7 linked regions of the Homo sapiens genome follow. The protein of the gene in region 4 purifies or fractionates together with the protein of the main gene of each other region. This does not show direct contact. Each region holds a gene or a part of one and is shown on either strand. Other genes may lie near its edges.

What was found.
Region 1: the proteins of NFKB1 (region 4) and RPS10 purify together in Homo sapiens (affinity purification with mass spectrometry; 2 studies listed by BioGRID and IntAct, with this or other methods). This does not show direct contact.
Region 2: the proteins of NFKB1 (region 4) and RUVBL2 purify together in Homo sapiens (affinity purification with western blotting; 2 studies listed by BioGRID and IntAct, with this or other methods). This does not show direct contact.
Region 3: the proteins of NFKB1 (region 4) and KPNA3 purify together in Homo sapiens (affinity purification with mass spectrometry; 2 studies listed by BioGRID, with this or other methods). This does not show direct contact.
Region 5: the proteins of NFKB1 (region 4) and AURKA purify together in Homo sapiens (affinity purification with mass spectrometry; 6 studies listed by BioGRID and IntAct, with this or other methods). This does not show direct contact.
Region 6: the proteins of NFKB1 (region 4) and PCCB purify together in Homo sapiens (tandem affinity purification; one large-scale study listed by IntAct). This does not show direct contact.
Region 7: the proteins of NFKB1 (region 4) and DPM1 purify together in Homo sapiens (affinity purification with mass spectrometry; 2 studies listed by BioGRID and IntAct, with this or other methods). This does not show direct contact.

The regions. Positions count from the first base shown.
Region 1 is NC_000006.12:34,420,012-34,423,069, forward strand, and holds part of RPS10 (small ribosomal subunit protein eS10), read right to left. Parts: intron 1,797-3,058; coding exon 1,719-1,796; intron 1-1,718. Other genes in the region: RPS10-NUDT3 protein, read right to left, coding at 1,719-1,796. UniProt on the Homo sapiens protein: Component of the 40S ribosomal subunit. The ribosome is a large ribonucleoprotein complex responsible for the synthesis of proteins in the cell.
Region 2 is NC_000019.10:49,000,387-49,003,886, forward strand, and holds part of RUVBL2 (ruvB-like 2), read left to right. Parts: intron 1-2,892; coding exon 2,893-2,948; intron 2,949-3,500. UniProt on the Homo sapiens protein: Possesses single-stranded DNA-stimulated ATPase and ATP-dependent DNA helicase (5' to 3') activity; hexamerization is thought to be critical for ATP hydrolysis and adjacent subunits in the ring-like structure contribute to the ATPase activity.
Region 3 is NC_000013.11:49,705,683-49,709,182, forward strand, and holds part of KPNA3 (importin subunit alpha-4), read right to left. Parts: intron 691-3,500; coding exon 586-690; intron 488-585; coding exon 416-487; intron 102-415; coding exon 1-101. UniProt on the Homo sapiens protein: Functions in nuclear protein import as an adapter protein for nuclear receptor KPNB1. Binds specifically and directly to substrates containing either a simple or bipartite NLS motif.
Region 4 is NC_000004.12:102,598,859-102,602,358, forward strand, and holds part of NFKB1 (nuclear factor NF-kappa-B p105 subunit), read left to right. Parts: exon of another isoform or gene 1-877; intron 878-2,036; coding exon 2,037-2,151; intron 2,152-2,786; exon of another isoform or gene 2,787-3,173; intron 3,174-3,500.
Region 5 is NC_000020.11:56,385,716-56,389,215, forward strand, and holds part of AURKA (aurora kinase A), read right to left. Parts: intron 3,070-3,500; exon of another isoform or gene 2,694-3,069; coding exon of another isoform or gene 2,597-2,693; intron 2,488-2,596; coding exon of another isoform or gene 2,483-2,487; coding exon 2,441-2,482; intron 819-2,440; coding exon 542-818; intron 1-541. UniProt on the Homo sapiens protein: Mitotic serine/threonine kinase that contributes to the regulation of cell cycle progression.
Region 6 is NC_000003.12:136,298,840-136,302,339, reverse strand, and holds part of PCCB (propionyl-CoA carboxylase beta chain, mitochondrial isoform 1 precursor), read right to left. Parts: intron 1,311-3,500; coding exon 1,229-1,310; intron 1-1,228. UniProt on the Homo sapiens protein: This is one of the 2 subunits of the biotin-dependent propionyl-CoA carboxylase (PCC), a mitochondrial enzyme involved in the catabolism of odd chain fatty acids, branched-chain amino acids isoleucine, threonine, methionine, and valine and other metabolites.
Region 7 is NC_000020.11:50,952,033-50,955,532, forward strand, and holds part of DPM1 (dolichol-phosphate mannosyltransferase subunit 1), read right to left. Parts: intron 3,254-3,500; coding exon 3,154-3,253; intron 1-3,153. UniProt on the Homo sapiens protein: Transfers mannose from GDP-mannose to dolichol monophosphate to form dolichol phosphate mannose (Dol-P-Man) which is the mannosyl donor in pathways leading to N-glycosylation, glycosyl phosphatidylinositol membrane anchoring, and O-mannosylation of proteins; catalytic subunit of the dolichol-phosphate mannose (DPM) synthase complex.

The sequences.
Region 1 (3,058 bases), on a different chromosome or scaffold from region 4:
AGCTGGGACTATAGGCACATACCACCATTCCCAACTCACTTTTACAAATATTTGATTAAATAAAAGACATTAGTACTCAAATAACCTGTTTCCACTTGCTTTTTCAAGTGTGGCTACGAGGAAATTTTGTATTAGATCTATGGCTCACATTGGGTACAAGAATAGGGGGAGGAAAGCAAATGCCAATAACGAATATGGTTTCAGTAATCGTTTTCTTTTCTTTTGAGACAGGGTCTTGCTGTTGCCCAGGGTGGAGTGCAGTGGCATGATCTTGTCTCACTGCAACCTCCGCCTCCCAGGTTCAAGCAATTCTCCCGCCTCAGCCTCCCGAGTAGCTGAGATTATTACAGGCAGGCACACACCATCATGCCCAGCTAATTTTTTAAAGTAGAGATGGGGTTTTACCATGCTGGCCAGGCTGGTCTTGAACTCCTGACCTCAAGTGATCCACCTGCCTCGGCCTCCCAAAGTGCTGGGATTACAGGCATGAGCCACTGTGCCTGGCCCATAATCGTTAAACTTCCAGTATCACCAACTTCCTCTGAACCAAGGGCTGGAGAAATTCATTCCTTCTACTACCCTGTATGGTACTCAGGTCAAGTGGTCACTTCTCCAAAAGATGACAGAAAAAAGCTAAGAGTGGTAGAAGTTAGTAAAAACTCTTCTTGTACACCTTGCTTTTGTATTACAATCAACAACGAGTGACTTTATCCGGGTGGGCGCGGTGGCTCACATCTGTAATCCCAGCACTTTGGCAGGCTGAGGCGGGCGGATCATGAGGTCAGGATATCCAGACCATCCTGGCTAACACGGTGAAACCCCATCTCTACTAAAAATACAAAAAAAATTAGCTGGGCATGGCGGCGGTCGCCTGTAGTCCCAGCTACTCGGGAGGCTGAGGCAGGAGAGTGGCGTGAACCCAGGAGGCAGAGCTTGCAGTGAGCTAAGATCTTGCCACTGCACTCCAGCCTGGGTGACAGAGCGAGACTGTCTCAAAAATGAAAGAAAATTAAAAAAAAAAAAAAGTTGAATCCTATTATTCCTTTGCAAAAATACTAACAAAAGCTCCACATTTTACCGAAGAGGTTTTTTTTTTTTTTTGAGACAGTCTTGCTCTGTCACCCAGGCTGGAGTGACAACTTTAACAATTACTGAAACCATATTTGTTATTGGCATTTGCTTTCCTCCCCCTATCCTCGTGCCCAGTGTGAGCCATAGATCTAATACAATGGCATGATCTCGGCTCACTGCGGCCTCTGCCTCCCAGGTTCAAGCAATTCTCATGCCTCAGCCTCCTAAGTAGCTGGGACTACAGACGCCCACCACCACACCGCCCTAATTTTTGTATTTTTAATAGAGACAGGGTTTCGTCATGTTGGCCAGGCTGGTCTCGAACTCCTGACCTCAAGTAATCTGCCCACTTCGACCCCCCCCCTCCAACCAAAGTGCTGGGATTACAGACATGAGCCACTGAGCCCGGCCTGAGTTTTGTTTTTTAAAAAATCCCAGCCTCCTCCTAATTCTCATCTATGAAATCACTGCATGAAGAAAGAAGCACAAAGGACTCCAGCTGTTCTGATGCTCTGCAGAGTGAAACCAAGAATCTTTCCTGGTCATTTTGTCATCATCAAGGGCTGAGCCCCACCCAGCCAGAGCCAGCTGTGAGAATCCAGACATTTCACCCCAACACCCCTAATATAGGTGATGCATTTACTCACGTGGCACAGCACTCCGTCTGTAGGTATCTCTGTCAGCTTCCCCTCTTGTGAGTCTCGCAGGTCGCTCACCCTCCAGACCTATGTAAATCAAACCACACTGTGAACACAGGGCAATGTGAGAACTCTGTCCCTTAAAGCCAAGAAAACTGGCATTGCTCTCCTGTTGTCACTCTCAGCAACCACTTGGTTAAGATGGGTTAATGGGGACAGGAACTCCTTAAACCTACAATGTCAGCTAGAAATAATTATTTCTCCATAGAAACTTATTGACAATCTTGGCTGCAAATCTGAAAAAAAAAAAAAAGGCTTCCATTTTGTTTCAACATAAAACTATTTTCCAATTATTGGACCAATCTAGGTATCTAGCTATTTCTATGAACATCTGAATAGCTAAACTTTTGAACCTGACCCACGTTAAGTGGAAAACTTAGTATATGCAAACAGAAAAGGAAGCATCCTAAGCTGAAAGTCCCAACTCCAATATTAAGTACATAATCTAGGGGTTACCAAGAATCGTTGAGTTCCTCTTGGGCTTCTTCACATACCTGTTAGGCTGTGGGATATATATTAAGGCAGAAACTTTATTATTTATTATCTTTTTGTGAGACGGAGTCTCACTCTGTCACCCAGGTTGGAGTGCAGTGGCGCGATCTTGGCTCACTGCAACCTCTGCCTCCTGGGTTCAAGCAGTTCTCTCACCCCAGCCTCCCCAGTAGGTGGGATTACATGCACGTGCCACCACGCACGGCTACGTTTTGTATTTTTAGTAGAAAGGGGGTTTCAACCTGTTGGCCAGGCTGGTCTCCAACTCCTGACCTCAAGTGACCCTCCCGCCTTGGCCTTCCAAAGTGATGGGATTATAGGCACGAGCCACCACGCCCAGGCTAATTTTTTTTGGTTGGTATCTTTAGTAGAGACAGGGTTTTACCATGTTAGACAGGCTGGTCTTGAACTCCTGGTCTCATGTGATCCTCCCGCCTTGGCCTCCCAAAGTGCTGGGATTACAGGTGTGAGCCACCACACCCTAAGGCACAAACTTTAAGAGCTACCTTAAAAAAATTATCATAAATGGCCAGACGCAGTGGCTCATGCCTGTAATCCCGGCACTTTGGGAGGCCAAGGCAGGTGATCACTTGAGGCCAGGAGTTCAAGAACAACCTGGCCAACATGGTAAAACCCTGTCTCTACTAAAATTACAAAAATTAGCCGGGTGTGGTGGTGCACGCCTGTGATCCCAGCTACCAAGAAGCTGAGGCAGGAGAATCACTTGAACCCAGGAGGCAGAGGTTGCAGTAAATTGGGATCGTGACACTGCACTCCAGCCTAGGTGACAGAATATA
Region 2 (3,500 bases), on a different chromosome or scaffold from region 4:
TCTACTAAAAATACAAAAATTTGCTGGGCGTGGTGGCGCGTGCCTGTAATCCCAGCTACTCGGGAGGCTGAGGCAGGAAAATTGCTTGAACGAGGAGGTGGAGGTTGCAGTGAGCCAAGATCATGCCATTGCACTCCAGCCTGGGTGACAAGAGTGAAACTCTGTCTCTCAATAAATAAATAAATAAAAGTGCCGAGACTGGGTGCTGTAGCTCACGCCTGTAATCCCAGCACTTTGGGAGGCCGAGGCGGGTGGATCACCTGAAGTCAGGAGTTTGAGACCAGCTTGGCCAACATGGTGAAACCCTGTCTCTACTAAAAATACAAAAATTAGCCAGGCATGGTGGTGCATGCCTATAGTCCCAGCTACTAGGGAGGATGGCTTGAACCTGGGAGGCAGAGGTTGCAGTGAGCCAATATCGTGCCACTGCACTCCAGCTTGGGTGACAGAGTGACTCCATCTCAAAAACAAACAAAAAGTGCCAAGTATGGCCGGGCATGATGGGTCACGCCTGTAATCCTAGCACTTTGAGAGGTGGAGTCAGGAGGATTGCTTGAATCAGGAGTTCAAGACCAGCCTGAGTCACATAGTGTGATCCTGTCTCTAAAAAAAAAATAAAAAAATTAGCCGGCAGTGGTGGTCCATGCCTGAGTCCCAGCTACTTGGGAGAACTGCTTGAACCAAGGAGGTTCAGGATGTGGTGAGATGTGACTGCACCATGCACTCCAGCCTGGGTGACAGAGTGAGACGCTCTCTCAAAAAATAAAAATAAAAACATTTTTTTTTTTTTTTGGAGACGGAGTCTCGCTCTGTCGCCCAGGCTGGAGTGCAGTGGCGCAATCTCGGCTCACTGCAAGCTCTGCCTCCCGGGTTCACGCCATTCTCCTGCCTCAGCCTCCCGAGTAGCTGGGACTACAGGCGCCCGCCACCATGCCCGGCTAATTTTTTTGCGTTTTTAGTAGAGATGGAGTTTCCCCGTGTTAGCCAGGATGGTCTCGATCTCCTGACCTCGTGATCCGCCCGCCTCGGCCTCCCAAAGTGCTGGAATTACAGGCATGAGCCACCGCGCCTGGCCAAAAAACAATAAAAAATTAAAAAAAAAAAAAAAGGATGAAGAGCCAAGCACCGCTTGTGAGCTGAGGACCCAGTAGAGACTAGCTGCACCCAGGAGCCTCCCTTGGGGTGCTCACAGTCAAGCACTGGGGTCAGCAAATCTTTCCTTATTTTATTTTATTTTTTTTTTTGAGACGGAGTCTCATTCTGTCCCCCAGGCTGGAGTGCAGTGGCGCAATCTTGGCTCACTGCAAGCTCCACCTCCCGGGTTCACACCATTCTCCTGTCAGCCTTCCGAGTAGCTGGGACTACAGGCGCCTGACACCACGGCCGTCTAATTTTTTATATTTTTAGTAGAGACGTGGTTTCACTGTGTTAGCCAGGATGGTGTCTATCTCCTGACCTCGTGATCCGCCTGCCTCGGCCTCCCAAAATGCTGGGATTACAGGCGTGAGCCACCACGCCTGGACCCTAGCAAATCTTTCTTAAAGGGTCAGATGGTAAATCCTTCCTCTGTTGAAACTACTCAACTCTCCTCTTGCAGTGCGAAGGCAGCCACAGACAGTATATAAATGGCAGTGTTCCAATACAAAGATTTTTTGGTTGGTTTTTTGTTGTTTTTTTTTTGAGATGGAGTCTCACTGTGTTGCCCAGGCTGGAGTGCAGTGGGGCGATCTCAGTTCACTGCAACCTCCACCTCCCTGGTTTAAGTGACTCTCATGCCTCAGCCTCCCGAGTATCTGAGACTACAGGTGCATGCCACCACGCCAGGCTAATTTTTGTATTTTTTAGTAGAGACGGGGTTTCACCATGTTGGCCAGGCTAGTCTCGAACTCCTGACCTCAGGTGATCTGCTTGCCTCTGCCTCCCGAAGTGCTGGGATTATAAGCGTGAGCCACCGTACCCAGCTCCAATAAAATTTTATTTGCAAAAACAGGTGGCTGGCCTCCAGGCTGAGGTTTGCTCAACCCTCATCTAATGTAAAGCATGGGAATCCCATCTTCCCCTCTCGCTGGCTGTGTGGCTGGGGCATGGGACCTAACCTCTCTGAGCTCCCTCCCCATTCATATCAATAGGTTCTGGGACTGTTGCCATTTTGATACTCAGAAGTGCTTTCAGGGTGATAGCAGCCAGGGCTCTTGTTTCATTTTATTTTGTTTTACTGAGACAGGTCTTGCTCTGTCATCCAGGCTAGAATGCAGTGGCACAATCTTGGCTCACTGCAACCTCCGCCTCCCAGGTTCAAGCAATTCTCCTGCCTCAGCCTCCTGAGAAGCTGGGATTACAGTCATCTGCCACCATGCCCAGCTAATTTTTGTATTTTTAGTAGAGACAGGGTTTCACCATGTTGGCCAGGCTGGTCTCGAACTCCTGACCTCCAGTGATCCGCCCGCCTCGGCCTCCCAAAGTGCTGGGATTATAGGCAGGAGCCACTGCGCCCGGCCCCAGCCAGGGCTCTTTTTTTGCAGGATCATATGGAATAAACTGAGAACATGTGGGTGCTGTGTAAACCATAAACATGAAGTAATTGTGATCATTAGCCCTTGTGGTTAGATCTTAGTACAATTATGTGCTTAATCAGGCCTCAGTGACTTTTGTTTAACTAGGATGCATCCTCAGAGCAGCTCCAGTTCATTGAGCATTTACCACATTCAGCCATCTTCCTAGGGAGGTGCCAATTTGGGATATCCTTTCCATGTGCCCCTTCATTCCCCCAACCCCTGCTCCCTACTCCCACCCACCCCTTTGACAAAGAAGGAAACCAGGGCTCAGAGGGGTCAGGCCACATGTGCAGCAAGCTGGCTAGTAACTGAGTCTTTGTTCTTTCCCTTCATGTAGGTGCCCACTCCCACATCCGGGGACTGGGGCTGGACGATGCCTTGGAGCCTCGGCAGGTAGAGCAGAGGAGGCTGGGGTGTGAGGGCCTCTCCATGAAGGTCTTGGGTAGTGGGTACCCAGGGTCCTGGGGAGTGTGGGGACTATGTTACGGTCTTCTGGACCTTTGGCTACATACCCATAAACTTCAACCACATGTGGGTTTTCTTGGTACTAAAGAATTGATTAGGCTAGGTGTGGTGGCTCATGCCTGTAATCTCAGCACTTTGGGAGGCCAAGGTGGGTGGATCACCTGAAGTCAGAGTCAAGACCAGCCTGACCAACATGGTGAAACCCTGTCTCTACTAAAAATACAAAAATTAGCCGGGCATGGTGGTGCATGCCTGTAATTCCAGCTACTCAAGAGCCTAAGGCAGGAGAATTGCTTGAACCTGGGAGGTGGAGGTTGCAATGAGCCGAGATTGTGCCACTGCCCTCCAGCCTGGGTGACATCTCGGAAAAAAAAAAAAAGAATTGGGAGTGGGTAGCAATTGCTTTGCCACCTTAAAAAAAAGTTAGACTGGGTGCAATGGCTCACACTTGTAATCCCAATACTTTGGGAGGCTGAGATG
Region 3 (3,500 bases), on a different chromosome or scaffold from region 4:
TTTTTTAGACCATCTAGAACCACCTGAACCACTTGAGAATCTTTCACTGACAGTAAATTACAGAACGGTGGTATTACATTCTGCTGTACAAGGTACTCAACCTAGACAACAAAAGAGAAGAAATATTTTTATTTATATAATTATCTATTTCCCAGTAGGGTGTCGTGCTACATGGAAGGCTGAGGCAGGAGGCTATCTTGAGCCCAGGAGTTGGAGGCTGTAGTGCGTTATGGTCATGCCTGTGAATAGCAACTGCACTCTAGCCTGGGCAACATAGTGAGACTCCATCTCTTAAAATAATAATAATTATCTTTTCCCCAAAAAGAACACAATACAGTCAGCAACTACGAAACATAAGAGAGCAGCATGCTTTCCAGTATTAACAATCATGACAGTTACAGGTTTTCAAACTCACCTGATCTTTTCTGCCACTTATTGTTAAGTTGCTGATTGCCCAAGCAGCTTCTTTTTGTGTTCCAAAGTCCCCCTGAAGGTTAAAAATGAGATCATAAAATGGACTCTTTATCCAAAAAGTCTTGGTTATTAACAGATTAACAGACACGGTGAACTCATAATATGACCAACCTTAGCAAGCTGATGAATTATCATAGGAATTAATCCAGCATCTATTACAGCTTGAACTTGTTGCTGGTTGCCTGCTGTTATGTTGGAAAGGAACCACACTGCTTCCTATAATTGAACAAAATATAGGGCACCTTTATTTGAAAAATAATACCTTTAATGTCTTTCTAATATATTTTATATAGACAATAACAAAATCACCTGAATTACGTTAAAGAGACTGCACCTAAAAAGTGATTAGGTATACAAAATCTTCCATTTTAAACAAGTTATAAGGAAATTTCCATTAATTATATTTGGGCTCCAATAACCTGGCATTTATCCATTCATTAATATATAGGCCTACTATAAGCTAGGCATTATTCTAGGAAATGGTGATTTTATAGAAATGAACAAAACAGAAATCTTTATTCATGGAGCTTACATGTCTGTGCATTAGCTTCCTCTAAAAGACAGAAATAAATATACAACTGAATTTCTTTTTTCTTTTCTTTTTTTTTTTGAGACGGAGTCTTGCTCTGTCGCCCAGGTTGGAGTGCAGTGGCGTGATCTCGGCTCACTGCAAGCTCCGCCTCCCGGGTTCACGCCATTCTCCTGCCTCAGTCTCCCGAGTAGCTGGGACTACAGGCACCTGTCACCACGCCCAGCTAATTTTCTTCTATTTTTAGTAGAGACGGGGTTTCACCGTGTTAGCCAGGATGGTCTCGATCTCCTGACCTCGTGATCCACCCGCCTAGGCCTCCCAAAGTGCTGAGATTACAGGCATGAGCCACCGCGCCCAGCCACTATACAACTGAATTTCTAAAACTACTTAAAAACTACTTCTAATAAAGGTGATTTCTTTTTTAATTTTAAAAAATATTTACTCACAAGATATAGTCATTCAAGTATTCCATAAAAATTAACCATCTAACTAGTCTAGCATGGGTCTATATAACATAAATATTCTAAAACTAAGGGATTTATAAGTCATAAACACGTCTGTGAGCTGTTTACAGGTTAGTATCACATGTGTATCTTCCTCTTCCACAAATGAATTTGTTTTGCCATCCAACTGTGGTAAGTTGTTAATAATTGCTGAATCTGTGTTTAGAGTACATGGGTGTTCACTATACTATTCTTGCACATTTTTTGTAGATTTAAAAAGTTTCAAACAGAAATGCTGAGGGAAGAAAATCAAGTTGGTAACTTCTACTTCCAGGGTCCTATGATAGTCTCAAAATGCAAGTAACAAATTTTCAAGGCAAAAAATTTTTGAAGTAACTAATTGCTTGCTGAAGTTGAGATGGCATTTCTATGAAATTTTCCTCTACCCCCCACGATACCCTCACTTAAAAGCATACTACATCACAGGCCGGAACCTTTCTCTGCTGACTTCTGCCCAGCTTCCTCACTTCTCAGTTGTTTCCAATTATGGAATATATTCATTTAGCTAAAAAAAAAAAAATCACCTATATTGTTAAAAATTTCTTTAGTAAAAGTAACTGGCCCAGAGTCTGAAAGTCTCTGGCTTCTTTGTCTTCACTGGAACAAATGTATCTATAAAATGTGTTTTTTGACACCATACTTTTCTATAAGAACCCAACAGTCAAATTATACTCAAGCAACTATACAAATATAGTTATGATGACGAAGAAGAAATGATCAGTTCTGCTGGGTTTGGGTGATGGTAGTATATTAGGCAGATAAAACTTTAGTAAACTAAATGTAAATTTATTTCTTTTTCTTTTTTCCTTTTTTTTTTTTTTTGAGACAGAGTCTTGCTCTGTCGCCCAGGCTGGAGTGCAGTGGCACAAACTTGGCTCACTGCAAACTCCACCTCCTGGGTTCATGCCATTCTCCTGCCTCAGCCTCCTGAGTAGTTGGGACTACAGGCGTCTGCTACCACACCCGGCTAATTTTTTGTAATTTTAGTAGAGACGGGGTTTCACTGTGTTAGCCAGGATGGTCTCAATCTCCTGACCTCGTGATCTGCCCGCCTCGGCCTCCCAAAGTGCTGGGATTACAGGCATGAGCCACCATGCCTGGCCAACTAAACGTAAATTTAAACCACAATGAGACACCACTTCACATCTACTAGGATTGTCAGTAATTTTTTTTAACAGAAAATAAACGTTGGCTAGGATGTGGAGAAATTAGAATTCTAGTAACACTGCTGGTGGGAATGTAAAACAGTGCAGCTGCAATGGAAAACGGTTTGGTGGTTCCTCAAAAAGCTAAACCCAGAATTAACATATGATCGAGCAATTCTACTTGCAGTTATATATCCAAAGAAATTGAAAGCGGGAACTCAAATAGGTATTTGTATGCCAATGTTCACTGCAGCATTCTTCGTAATAGTGAAAAGGTGGAAACAACCGAAGTGTCCATCAACAGAAGAATGTAAAAACAAAATGTGGTGTATACATACAATGGAATATTTATTCAGCCATAGAAAGAATAAAGTTCTGACACATGCTGCAAAATGAATGAACCTTGAAAACATGCTAGATGAAATAAGCCAGGCATGAAGACTTATTACATACTAGTAAGTACATATTACACAATTAATAATAAACTTGTCTATGAAGCTTGAAATCTTAAAAAGAGTAATTTTTTATGATCCTTGAATTTAGGCACCTCGTCTTTGGGTCCAAACTAATTTTGCTGGGAGATCAAAATTTTTATGATCGGTTTGTTTAAAAAAATACCAGCCCATTCAAATGGCAGATTTTGTCTGCACTTTCAAGCGGCTACTAATTTAATGATTGTTGCTATGCTCAGTCTACTTAAATAGAAACACAGGTAGTCTAAAAATGTTTTTTACTCTGTGATGACCAGGGCAGCACCTACCAGAAGCGATTAAAAGTTGAAAAAGGCTGGGCGCGGTGGCTCACGCCTGTAATCTCAGCACTTTGTGGGGCTGAAGCAGGCGGATC
Region 4 (3,500 bases):
AAGTTCCCTCCTAAGACCCAAGCACACTCACACAAGCCGGCTCTCAGAGAGGCCACAGATTTGGGACTTGGAGAGACCAGAGGATCCTCATAAGAGCATAGGTATAGGGCAGCTTTTGGCCATCACAGCCCAAGTCTCTTGTTTTAATTCAGCTCGTCATATTTGGCTAATAGTTTAAATCCTGTGGCCATTAGTCATCATAGAAAATATAATAAAGAAAAATATATAAAACTTCTGCTATTGGGGAAATTCCCATAAGGGTGTGAGGATTTGAGGGGGAGGGGGAATGTACTTCTGCTATGAAATGCTGAGCGGCACATGGAAATTTTCGAGCAGTTTTAGAAGTATGACCTTTTTCTTGGTGTATGTGCATCATGTCTATGTCAGAGTTTAGGCCCTTTTCAGAAGTCTTCTTCCAGTATCACATTTCAAGAAGCAATAGTGAAACCCTGAGATCATCCGTTTTAAAATATTTCTCAAGTAGCAAAATCACAATTTAGTTTTTTAGGCTCTTCTGTGCCGGAGTTAATCCCAAGTACGATATACTTGCTATTGCTAAGGAAGAGGCTTGAGTAAAGTGGCACCTGATAGCTTATTTTAGAGAAGATCCAGCCTGTACCTCGTGTCCCAGATGTAGTGCTGCTGCGAGATGCTTTAGTGTGCTCTGCACCTCAATCTGTCCATGCTCTGGAGTGGTCATCTTCTTAGACATTCATCTGAATGTCTTTAGAACAGTGCACATGTATCCCCTATGCAGGATTGCTTAAGGGATTAAGAGATGGCTTTGGAGTAAGACAGGCCTGGGCTTGAATCCCAGCTTCACCACGTATTGGCCTTGACTGAGTTATATGACGCCTGCAAGTCTCAGTTTCATTAGCTGAAAAGTGAAGATAATATTACCTAACTCATAGGATTATTGTTATAGTAAAAAGACAATATATATCAAATGCTTAGCATAGTCTGGTAAATCAAAGCTCCCAACAAATAGTAGCCACTGGTAAAATGATTGTTATTGTTATTGTTTTGAATTTTAATAGTATGTTTTTTAATAATTAAAAGAATTACGCTCCTGTGAGTGACTTTGACACCACCAGTATGTTCAGCCTCATTAGCGTAAGCTCTTAAGTTCCTTCTATCATTCTTATTTTTGTGCCTCTACTGCATGCTAGGGTTGTAAGGCTGACTCAGACAGAACCTGCCCCAGAGATGACAGGACAGAGAACGAGAAAAATGTGTAGAAAACTGCAGTTGCATAACCAAGCAGTAAATTTGAGAGGGACAACTTGCTCCACCTAGGAGGTTAGGAAAGTATTCTCTGAGGATGTCAGGTTTGAACTGGAATATAAAGGATGGAGTAGGCATTGTTCAGGCAGAAGAAAGGAGCAAAAACATTCCAGGCAGAGGGAATATTTGCTGGAATGTTTGCAGGAGTGGTGGGAAATACAATCACTTTGTTTCTTCACAAGTTTACTGCAAGAATTTTCTTCCAGTAGTTAAAAGCTTCACTCCATTCTCCACTCTTGGGATCTGGAAAGATCTTTAAAAAACCACCACACTGTATTTTGGAGGAGGGCAGCAGGGCTAAGTGAGGTAACTAAGTTTTTCTGAACAATTCCTAGTGCCAGGCATTCATTTTACATAGAATCTGTGTGTCAGGAAAAGTCAGGGGGAAAGGTAGAGAAGAAAACCGCCCAAAGCCATGGTATAGAGGCAGGATTGGGATTTAAGCTTAGGTCTTTCTGGGCTGGAAGCCTCAGTGTGTTTATACATCAAGGGGTCAAGACCTGAATGCTCCCAGAGGCCAGGAAGGTACCACAAATAACGTAGCAGCCTTGGGTAGGCAGTTGGGAGGGACCAGTCCTCTGGAGACAGCATCCCACCTCAGATTCAATGCATTTTATAGATTCAAAACATTTTAGGGCCAAATAAAACTAGGTATGAGAGCAGATTCCATTCTTGAGTCTAATCACATCTTGGGAATCTTTTCTTTTTCATTAACATTTTAGTTAATTATTGCCACTGTGTTTTCATTCCAGTGTCTTACACTTAGCAATCATCCACCTTCATTCTCAACTTGTGAGGGATCTACTAGAAGTCACATCTGGTTTGATTTCTGATGACATTATCAACATGAGAAATGATCTGTACCAGGTAAGCAGAAATCTCAAGAAAACAACTGAAGAAAAATCTGTAGTTTACTTTTTCTTCTGTTATGTTTGGGTGCATGTTATTTTTAGTAATGTTAACAGTAGCAAAAACAAAAACAAACCTTTGTAGGTAATATCTAAAATCCCATTAGTTGAGAATGTTACTTTATGATGTAGGATCCTTTGATCTGTGGGTATAACAGCCATCAAGCCACAATGAAATTCAGCATCCCGCTGGGGGAAGGCAAACTTTAAACTTTAGAAATCAAACAGTTTTTTCATTTAAGAGGGAGAAACTAAAGTAAAAATGTCACATCTGTCAAGAAAAATAAAGTTAAAAAAAGTTTGAAAAGCCAGTAATTTATAATAATTTTGAAGTCTACTGAAACATACCTTGACAACATCCAGATTAAATGTATATCAAATGAAGCATTCTGAAATCACCACACAGAAAGGTTAAAAGTTTGCTTGAGGAGGAAAAGGTGTCTTTCAAAAGCAGAAAGACAGCTCCAAGTGAGGAAAAGTGGGAACACCAGAGTTTTGCCCAAATCAGGTTTTCTTAGGAATTAATTAGGTGGGCTGAAAATACAAGTTGAGGAACTGTTTTTTCCAGAGGTCTTCCAACACTGCAAAGGGAGAGTTAGCTGGAGACACAGCGAGGCCCTTTGATGGGCATATGCAGAATTCAGGGAGAGGCAAGGAGCCTGGGAGCCACTTCGGCAGAAGCAGAGCTTGGACGTTGGTGATGGGAGCCCAGTGACCCCAGCCAGCCTTTCTGGCTGAGCGACTGCACTGGCATGAAACCAAGATGGGGTTCGGCTCCTGAGGTTTCCTCCTTCCTGCCCCTGATTGCTTTTCCCACCTCACTGTCTTTCCCCTACTCCCACCAGTCTGCTGTATGGGGCTCCTGCCCTTGCCCACTTCTTACCTTTCCATTTGTCTCCTTCCCTTCATCGACCCGAAGCATCTTCCTCATCCTCCTTGGAGAGATGGTTTGCTGGTTCACGTGTATCTCTCACTCCAAAACTATGGCCAAAATCCTGTGTAATTATTTACTTAGTAAAGATATTTGTTCCTGCTCTCTCAGTTTTTATAGCAGTGATGTGAATCATTTCTATTTCCTCACTTTAAAGGAAAATGCTTTTATTATTTTAAAGAAAATTAATTAAAACTTCATTTTCTTTAAAGGAAATTAAAATATCTATTTTCTTATTTTTATTTCCATTCTTTAAAATGTGCTTTAGGCTGGGTGCGGTGGCTCACACCTATAATCCCAGCACTTTGGGAGGCCGAGGCAGGCGGATCATGAGATCAGGAGATCGAGATCATCCTGGCTAACATGGTGAAACCCCG
Region 5 (3,500 bases), on a different chromosome or scaffold from region 4:
CTCCCAAAGCGCTGGGATTACAGGCGTGAGCCACTGCGCCTGGCCTTCCACAGTAAACTTTCTAAAAGGCAGAGTTCCCTTCTGAGTTCAAAAAAGCTTCAGTAGCTTCCAAATGCCCTAGAGATGAGGCCCCATTCCTTAACATGGCCAGCAATGCCCATGGTGACCTCACCGCAGCCTGCCTCAGTTCACCCACTTCTCTGGATTTCCCCCACACTTTAGATCTCAGTCCCTTCAAGTCACTTACTGCAAGCACCCTACATCCAGACTCAGTAACAAGCAATCAAAAGGACACCAATTTATGCTGTGTCCTCCCTGGGTGCCCAACTCTTCCAAGAGGGTGAGAATCAGGTCTGTATTTTTAGCATAGGTCTGGCCCATGGGCAGACACTGTTACTTCAACCCAGACACCATATTTTCTCCCCATCCTCAACAGATATAAAAGCTAAGGCTCCAAACAATAAGTGCAAGTATATACACTGGCTTTTTTAGCAACGACGACAAAGAAGGACTATCCAATGAGTCTCAAAAGCTAGTTTACCAGGTGCCGATGGCAGGGGCTGCTTGCTCTTTTGGGTGTTATTCAGTGGCCTGGAGACAGGATGAGGTACACTGGTTGCCTGCAATTGCTTCTGCTTCTGATTCTGAACCGGCTTGTGACTGGAGACAAGCTTTTGTGCTTGCAAAGGAATGCGCTGGGAAGAATTTGAAGGACACAAGACCCGCTGAGCCTGGCCACTATTTACAGGTAATGGATTCTGACAAGGAAATTGCTGAGTCACGAGAACACGTTTTGGACCTCCAACTGGAGCTGTAGCCTAGAATGGAAGAGAAAATAAACTTTCTGGCATTCATGAAAGCAAAAGATGAATATATTGAGAATTTCACAAAGTTTGTTCTCTAGTATAGCAAAATAATGAATGTCACTGATAAGAGATGGAAGGTGAAAAGGTATTTTAATCAGTACCTCCAGAGGATAGTTAGTATGTGGCTAAGAATACCTGAATGATACCTTCTATCCCCTCCAATTCCTCACCCCTAAAAATCATGCTTTATTAACAAATATCCATTAATGAAGGAGACACTTTCTAAAATTTCTCAATAATTTGGAAATAGACACTACATTGCTATTTGGCAAAAAGCTATGATACAAAAACTTTATGCCAAAATCTCAGTTCCATTGAAATTTCTTTGATAATATACGTTTAAGAAAAAGACCAAAAAAAAATACGTCAAAACGTTCAACAGTGGTATTATCTTCATGAAGTTTTAGAAGAGTCTAAGTTTTCATATATCGAAGATTTTCCACAATAAGCTTATTACTGTACTATTGATTAACCAATGTTTCATTTTCCAAGTATTGACAAAATGGAATTGAGCAAAAAACTGACAAAGAGGAAACAAATGTAGACACTTCACAAAGTTACTACTAAAATGTATTATTATTATTATTTTTGAGATGGAGTCTTGCTCTGTCACCCAGACTGGAGTGCAGTGGCATGATCTCGGCTCACTGCAACCTCTGCCTCCCAGGTTCAAGCAATTCTCTGCCTCAGCCTCCCAAGCAGCTGGGACGACAGGCGCCTGCCACCACGCCTGGCTAATTTTTTGTATTTTTAGTAGAAACAGGGTTTCACCATCTTGGCCAGGCCGGTCTTGAACTCCTGACCTTGTGATCCACTCTCCTTGGTCTCCCAAAGTGCTGGGATTACAGGCGTGAGCCACCGCGCCCAGCCTTGAAATGTATTATTTATACGCCTGTAAGTACTGTATTACAACCTTAAATTGTTAAGTTAACTCTAACACCCTCAGCTAATCAAACTAAAAGGGGTAGGAGGGATGAGATTTCCTTCAGCTTCAACAGCTCATTGTAAGTGAGGGACAAGTGCTAGAAATGAAAGCCTCAAAGTCCATCCCCAGCTCAACGGTATGAGTGCTCTACAAAGAGAGGGTGTTAAGACTTCCAAATACAAAGTCAGTTACTCCTGAAATTAGCACACTGTCCACAACGCAGCAGGCATTCAGACAAAGACAAATAAAAAGAAACATTTTAAATATAGAGCAATTTTTTAAATGGCCGTTATCATAGGAACTTAGAATCAAATACAGTAATTCAAGGTAGCCTTTTTCTAATTATTTTATATTTATGGCCAATTTTAAAAGTTTTGAACTCCTGCCAGATGCATTATTACTATTATCCTGCATACAGTGGAGGGATATAGAAACTTAAGCAGCCGATTATAAGACAAAGCAGAACAAAAAAGCTACTCTAAGAAGCAGCAAAATGTTACTGAACACGAGAAAAGTGACTAATTCATATCCAGGATCACAGTAAGGGATCTAAATTTAAATCCAAAGTAAAGGCGGAAAGAATTCCCGACAAGACCAACCTCCATGTGGGTTTATAAATGTGAATGAGATTACAGATTATTCAATTTACCTTAACAGGTCCTGAAATGCAGTTTTCTTTAGATCGGTCCATGATGCCTGAAAAGAAAAAGAAGAACCTTTAATTTGAACAAAGCCACCTGCTTAAAGTGCTGTTGCTCGATAGGCAGCGTTACAGTTCCCCAATCAAAAGGCCTCCACAACACACCGGATTTTACATGTTTTGTCCAAATGAAGCTAATGAGGGAGGGACAGGCATGTGCTTTCCCTGCAAGGCCAACCTCCCCTTGGGCACTGCGTCCCATCCTCTGTCACGGAGTCTTCACTCCTGATGGTCTTGCTGCTCCATCATCTCTCCTCTAATGGATCACTTCCATCCCTGTGCAGCCTACTGGCATACCTGCTACCTTAAAAAAGTCCTCTTTAGGCCGGGCATGGTGGCTTACACCTGTAATCCCAGCATTTTGGGAGGCCGAGGTGGGCGGATCACCTGAGGTCAAGAGTTCGAGACCAGCCTGGCCAACATGGTGAAACCCCGTCTCTACTAAAAATACAAAACTTAGCTGAGCGTGGTGGCAGTCACCTGTAATCCCAGCTACTCGGGAGGCTGAGGCAGGAGAATCACTTAAACCCAGGAAGCAGAGGTTGCAGTGAGCTGAGATCACACCATTGCACTCCAGCCTATGGGAAAAGAGCGAGACTTCGTCTCAAAACAATAAAATAAAATAAAAGTCCTCTTTATTCTATTATCGTTGCTAACAATGACCCCCTCCTCTCCAACAGCAAAGCTCCAGAAGAACCGTCCACACTTGCCACCTCTACTGCTCCTCTCCCCTCCCCTGAGCCCATCCCCACCTGGCTTTTTTGTCTCCACCACATTGTCAGGCTCATGGCTGACACCTACTGCTGCCAAACCCAAGGGTCAATTCCACCTTCCCCGTACTTGCATCCTCAGCAGAATCTGACAAGGTTGATCACATCTTACACTTTTTTCTTCACTTCACTTCCAGGTTTATCTACCACCTAGTCGTCCTGTCTTTCCCTCCTTGCTGGGTCAGTCTCATTTTTGCCAGATCAAGGGTCTGGGGTGACTCAAGAACGAGTCCCTGGAC
Region 6 (3,500 bases), on a different chromosome or scaffold from region 4:
TGACTCTGGCGTCTGTTGAAAGACTGCAACTTCCAGGGGAAGGATTGGACTGAAAATTGGAGTTAATTTCAGCTCTTAGCATAGTAGCAGCTACCCATCCCCCACCCCAGCTCCATGACAGATATTTCCGCAAGTGTTCCTGCAGCAGTTTGCACACAGCTTGCAGGAGCCGGGGTGGGCATAAAAGGACCCTGTCCTCCAAATATTGAGAATCTGTGCTTGCTGACTGCTGCTTCTGATCACAGAGGTGCAAAGAGATGGGTGGTCACTGTTGCTACAACTCCCCACACTGTTGCGAGGCTCTCCTGCTTTGGGCTGAACTGACTTCCAAGGAATTTAAAGGGCTGACATCTTTTTACCATCTTCATTTTTTTTCTCTTTTTCTACTTTTGGGAGCCAGACGTTAACAACTAGGACACTCAAAAACAACTGCATATGCAGGGAAAATTAGAAAGTGATTGCACGTGCCCCTGCAAAGGCTCAGAAAAGACCTAAGGAAGACCTTAAGGTTACATCTCAGGCTAATCCTTGGTGCAGGAAGAGACTACAAGAATAAAAAAGACAAAAACAATAACAGAAAACAGCAAACCCTAGGGAAGAGGGAGAATCTGACTTCTAGAGTTACCAGAGAGCCATCACGATGTGTTGCACAAGGACTACCGAGAGCACAGTGTACCCTTAAGGAAGGCATTGGCCATCTACAGATGCCTTCAGTTTGCCCAACACTGTCCCCTTTACTTAATGACCCAGGAATCTGCTGTACCAAAAAAAGGTACAAATGGCTCCTGTCTCCCACGGACCTCCACACACACAGTCCAACCTTCTAGGATGCCCTGTGTACTCTCTTCTCTATAAAGACAAAACCCCCTCTGAGCAGAGGGCCCCAATGATACTTAACAATGATCACTCTGGCCTCACTCTAGACTCTGTGGACATGGCCCCTAATTTATGATCCTCAGAGGGCCTTCTAAAGACTCCTGAGCTCTGCTGGCCCTTACTACTCCTATCTCCAGCCCTCAAGTCCATCTGTGCCACTAGGGTATCTATAGCCACTAGGTCTTTCCAGAACACACTACTCAGTGGCCACTGGTCCTGTGCCCACCCTATTCCCGACCTGTGCTGTCTGACATGGAGGCCAAGTGGTCCAGTGCTTCCTCACTAAGCCGAAGCACAATGCCCATGAATGTGGCTGACTAGGACAGGCAAGACAAACAGATGTGGCACTTACAGAGTGTATGATGTCCACCATGTTGTAGGCTTTGGTTGATTCCAAAGGGACAATTGTGTCAAGCTCAGGAACCAGACGGTCACTTTAGGCAGAAAAAAGGCAGGTATAGTCAACATAGGAAGAGCCAGTTACCTTTTGTGGGAATGGGGTGGGAAAGGAAATGGGGTGACACGTCATAGGGACTGGGCCAGTTCTGTCCCTGCTGGGCTTACAAAGCAGTCACCAAAGAGTCATTCCTTTTTAACCACCATATTAACTGAACCTGGGACAAGTATCAATCCAAAAGATCTTCTGGTTCTCTTTTAGAGGAAAAAATGAGTTTATTCCTCTAAACGTTATTCTTTCATTTATCTTCTCTGAATACCTCCTACATTCTAGGTACCGTGTAGGGCACTGAAGGACATTATAGTGAACAAGACACAGCCCTGGGAGAGCCCAGCCCAACTTCCTGGAACATTAAAAGAACAAGGACTTGGAAATGCAAAGGCAGAGCTCTGCATAAACCACTGTGGGTTCACATTCCCTGTTAGGTTAATCTGCTAAAGCTCCTTCAAAAAGCAAAACTGCAGGCCCTCTGGGCAAAATCACCACAGAACCTGTCACATGCAGGCTCATGGACTCTCTCCTTCCTCCTGCATCCAAGTGTCTCAGCAGAAAAACTAAGCCAGAGCCCACTCCCACTCTACAGGAGGACCCAGCAACTTGCCCCTCTCCAACCTCTTCTCTCCAATAGGCTTTCATTCCCTCCTTCCCAGTGTGGGCAGCCAGGGGCTACAGTGACCCTGAGACGTACTCCTGGGCTGAGGTTTGGCCTTGGGTCAGGCCATGTGTCCATCAAGCCCAACTTCGCAAAAAGCTCTACGCTGGAAAGAAAACTAAGGGTAGCCCCATCTGCTAATAAAGTCCTCCCTTTTTACTTGTCATACATATATACACATATACATATGTGTATATATGTATGTGAACACATGTGTAGATATACATATATACACGTGTAGATATGCATGTATGTATATGTGTAGATATGCGTATATGCATATATGTGTTGATATGCATGTGTGTGGGCATGCATATATGCATGTGTGGGCGTGTACACATGCATATGTGTGGGTATGCATATATACACATGCATGTGTGTATACATGCATACATGTATATATGTATGCATATGCGTATACATATACATATGCATACATATACATGCATACATATGTACGCATATACGTACATACACATGCATGCATATACATACATATGCATGCATATACATACACATGCATATACATACATACACATGCATACCTATACATACACATGCATATACATACATACACATGCATACCTATACATACACACACATGCATACCTATACATACACATGCATATACATACATACACATGCATACCTATACATACACATGCATATACATACATACACATGCATACCTATACATACACATGCATATACATACATACACATGCATACCTATACATACACATGCATATACATACATACACATGCATACCTATACATACACATGCATATACATACATACACATGCATACCTATACACATGCATATACATACATACACATGCATACCTATACATACACATGCATATACATACATACACATGCATACCTATACATACACATGCATACATATGCATATATACATAAGCATACATATACATACATATGCATATACATAAGCATACATATACATACATATGCATATATACCTATGCATGCATATGTATGCATGTGTATGTGTGTATGCACAAATATGTATACATGTATGTATACATATATATGCATATACGTACATATGCACACATGAACATATGTATATACACATACACGTATACATATATACGCATATACACATGCATATATATATGTATACATATATATGGATATATATCTCCCTTGGAATCATATGCAGAAGAGGTATAGCTGGGCCAAAGCGGGCTATGCAGACATTTCTGGGCTCCTGGGCCATAATACCTTCAAGTGATGTCCTAAACCCTTCAGGAACTCCAAACTGTATACTCAGAAAGGCTATACCCACAGCTCTGGACCTTGTGACCACTCTCCCCTCCATGACTACACACAGTGGGCCACTGGGTATGTCCCTTGTGGAGTGGGCAGAGGCAGACAGAGTGAGGCCCTGGCAACACAACTCTTCAGAGCATCCCTGGCCCAGACCAGGCCCCACAGGAAGGAGTCCAGGTTTAAGCTACAGGATAGCATCTGAAAATGACCTCTTCCC
Region 7 (3,500 bases), on a different chromosome or scaffold from region 4:
GACAGGAAGATGAACCCTGGAACCACAATGCCTGGGTTTGAATCCTGGCCACTACTCATTTGCCATGTGATCTTGAGAATATAAAGAGGCGTGACAAAGCCCCCTCTCACTTGGCTTTCATGAGGAACAAGCAAGTGGATTCACATAAAGTGCTTGCAAGAATGACAGGCATATACTTTTTGAAGCATGTTTGCCACAGCTGCTTATAAAATACTTTTATGGGAAACTATAATTTGTTTGACAAGAACCTTTGTAAAACTTATCACAGACAATCTTGAAAAAAGTTACTTAAAAACAGAATTGAGACTATAGTACATATACAGTTTTATAAACTGCTTTATACTTATTACAAAGGCATTAAGGATTTTTGAGGGTCATGAGATTACTGCCAGATGATACTTCAGAAAAACAGTATCAATTTATACTAGGATCAACAGTATTTGAGTGGACTTGTTCTATAATACTCTCAGAAACACTGGGTTAAAAAGAAAGGAGAAAATAAAAATAAATCTTCAGCTAATAAGGCTAATATGTACTCTCCTCCTGTTTTGTAAATCTTCACTTATCAGTGAGGCTCAGTATTTTTTTCTTGTTTACTGGCCATTTCTAGTTTTGGTCTTATGAATTATCTGGTTGGTTGGGGTACTGATCTTGTTAGAAATATTTTGGTATTTAGGAATGGACAGAAGTTTAATATTTTCAAGTAGTCAAACCTTTTTATCTTACATTTGATGTTTTAAGAATAATAAACGTGTTACATTTTATTATCAGAGTAAGTTTTTAAAATACTAAACTATAAAATAATGACAAAATGTAAGACAAAGTTCTAAGAATCTACCACACAGCACGGTGACTATAGTTAATAGTATCATATTATATAGTTGAAATTTACAGAGAGCAGATCTTAACTGTCCTCATCACTGTCAACTTGCCCCCAAGGGTAACTACGTGAGGTGATGGACAGGTTCATTCCCCAAATGTGGTATTCATACTTTAAATATATATAACTTTGTCAATTATACCTCAATAAAGCTGGAAGAAAATATGACAAAATATAAATGACTTTATCTGATCTCAAGTTGGGAGATGAAACAAACTACATAAACCAAACATAATAAAAGCATTCAACACAGAGCAGTTGAAGTCCTTCACAATTTCAGATCTCTGCCTTGTAAGCACTGTGAATAGTTCAGAGTAAGTGCCCCCAATTTCTCTATGGTCCTACCTAGTTAGGTCATTAAAAATGACCTAACCTCTCGCTTCAGTTGTGTCACCTACAGAATTTTTAAAAATATCTTCTTTGGCTTCTTTTCTGAAAGATTCATTTCAGCCAGTCTGAAAGGCTGACAAAGCATCTGTGGTGAACACTTTATCTGAGGTATTCTAACATGGTTTCAATATCCTTCATTTTCTCAACGAAACATACATCTGTCACTAAAAGCAAGTGTCATCCCTAGCATGGATTAATACTGTTTTTTTTTAAAAGTCATTTTCTAGTTTAACTTATTTAAATGTCATAAAATAATGAATGAATAAGGAATTTTATCTGGTAGTAGAGGGAAATCGTAACAGTGAATGCAACTTTTTTTCTCATTTTGAATTTTATTGGGTTGATAGAAAAAATGTCTTTGAAGACAATGTTGTTCCAAAATTTGAAAGGTCAGTTTAGTAACCATTCCCTAAAATCAATCAATCACATCCTAAGGCTGAGGTTTTATGACAAAAGTATTCAAAATGTTGTCTGGTTGATGGTCCGAGATTAAATGGCAGCACATAACTCAAAAGTGTTGTGAATCAGTGGCCTTCACCCTGGGCTTCTAAAGAAAACAGGGAACTACTGGCCAAAAATTCAAACCTAGCATTACTGAAAGTCTCTGCTAGAAGCCTGAAAATTTGTCAACTTTTTACCTCTTTCTGTATTCCCATCCATTAGAAGGTTTTCAGAGAAGACTTGAGGTGTGACAGACCTGAGTTACTCATCTGTGAGACAGACTGAAAGAATTCCTAGAACTACATTTACCATGTAGTAACACAGTTCCTTTAAACTCTTGCCACCAAGACCTCATACAACTGACACTCACCTCTAAGTAGAAAGTATTTCTATTACTGAGATTTATCAAGAATATTTAGACTGAGTGGCTTTTTTTTAAAATGATTAATTTACCATTTCTTGAACTGTAAATAACAATAAAGGTTCTCAAAGGGACTTCTTTCTCTATACCAATGGTTCTCTACTGGAGGCAAAGGGTAATTTTTCCCCTAAGGAAATATCTCACAATATCCAAACATTTGCAGTTGCCAAGTGGGGAGGGGGGTTTCTAGTGGCATCTAGTGAGAAGAGTCCAGATGCGGTGCTGAACATCCTACAATAAACACGACAACCCCCACAGTAAAGAATTAATCTGTCCACACGTCAATAGTGCCAAGACTGAAAAACTGTGGTCTGCAATAATTTGTGAATATAAATTATAAAAGAGCTCGAGTATACATAAACATTTGTAAATACAAACCGGTAACCAAAAATAAAATTCATGAAGCCATTATAAAATAAACTCTATATTTGCCTAAGTAACTTCTATATTAGAATAACAAGTTTCAAGGTACAGTGGGTGAATCTAAAGTTTAGGACTAATACAGTCAATCTACTTTCACAAGACTATTCTATAGACTAAAAATGCCAAGTACTCTAAGAAGTCATTAATGTTTCACAAGAAAACAGTAACTTTTTCTACCTACACGCTCTTAATTTCAGGCAGTATTCTCTAATGAAAGCATGAGAATACTTACCGAAAGGGAGCAAGAAAGATTAAGACACACACACACTACCAATTATAACCCAATTATATAATATTCCTTGTCAATTCAGTATCATGCTTTAATTTTTGCCCTTCAAGAAAATTTATCTGCAGAATTAGTTATAAACAGAGTTCATCCAAAAGCTCACTCTTTGCTGTAAAATGACCACTGACCCAACATACCAAAGATATGTAAAATTTTACGGACAACAAAAATGCATTTAAATCCCAAATGCGTAAGTTGCTCTTTATCTTTTCAGTTTCTAAACAAATAGATTGAATTTAAGCATTGTTCATGTCTCATCTTTCCCCTACATAATCACAATTCATATCACAGAAAAATGTTCTTATAACTTACAATTCTGTCTGACCCATAGATCTTCTCCAACTGTTCAGCAACATCCCTTGTTCCATCTGGGCTTCCATCATCTATGATTATAATTTCATAGTTGATTCCACTAAAAAAATTAAATTTGTATTAATGACTGATGACAGTGTTCTCAAATTTAAAAGTAATTTAAAAATTACTAATTCCTTAAAAGTATAAATGGAGATGTATTGCTATATTAATCGTTGAGGAAAACTTCAATTATCAAATGAAATAAATGTCAAACATTTAGTACTTTACCTCCAAACCCAGTATGTTGCTGAAACATGCTAATGTCCTGAGATATTAAAGAATTCCTACACAGAGAACAAACTTTT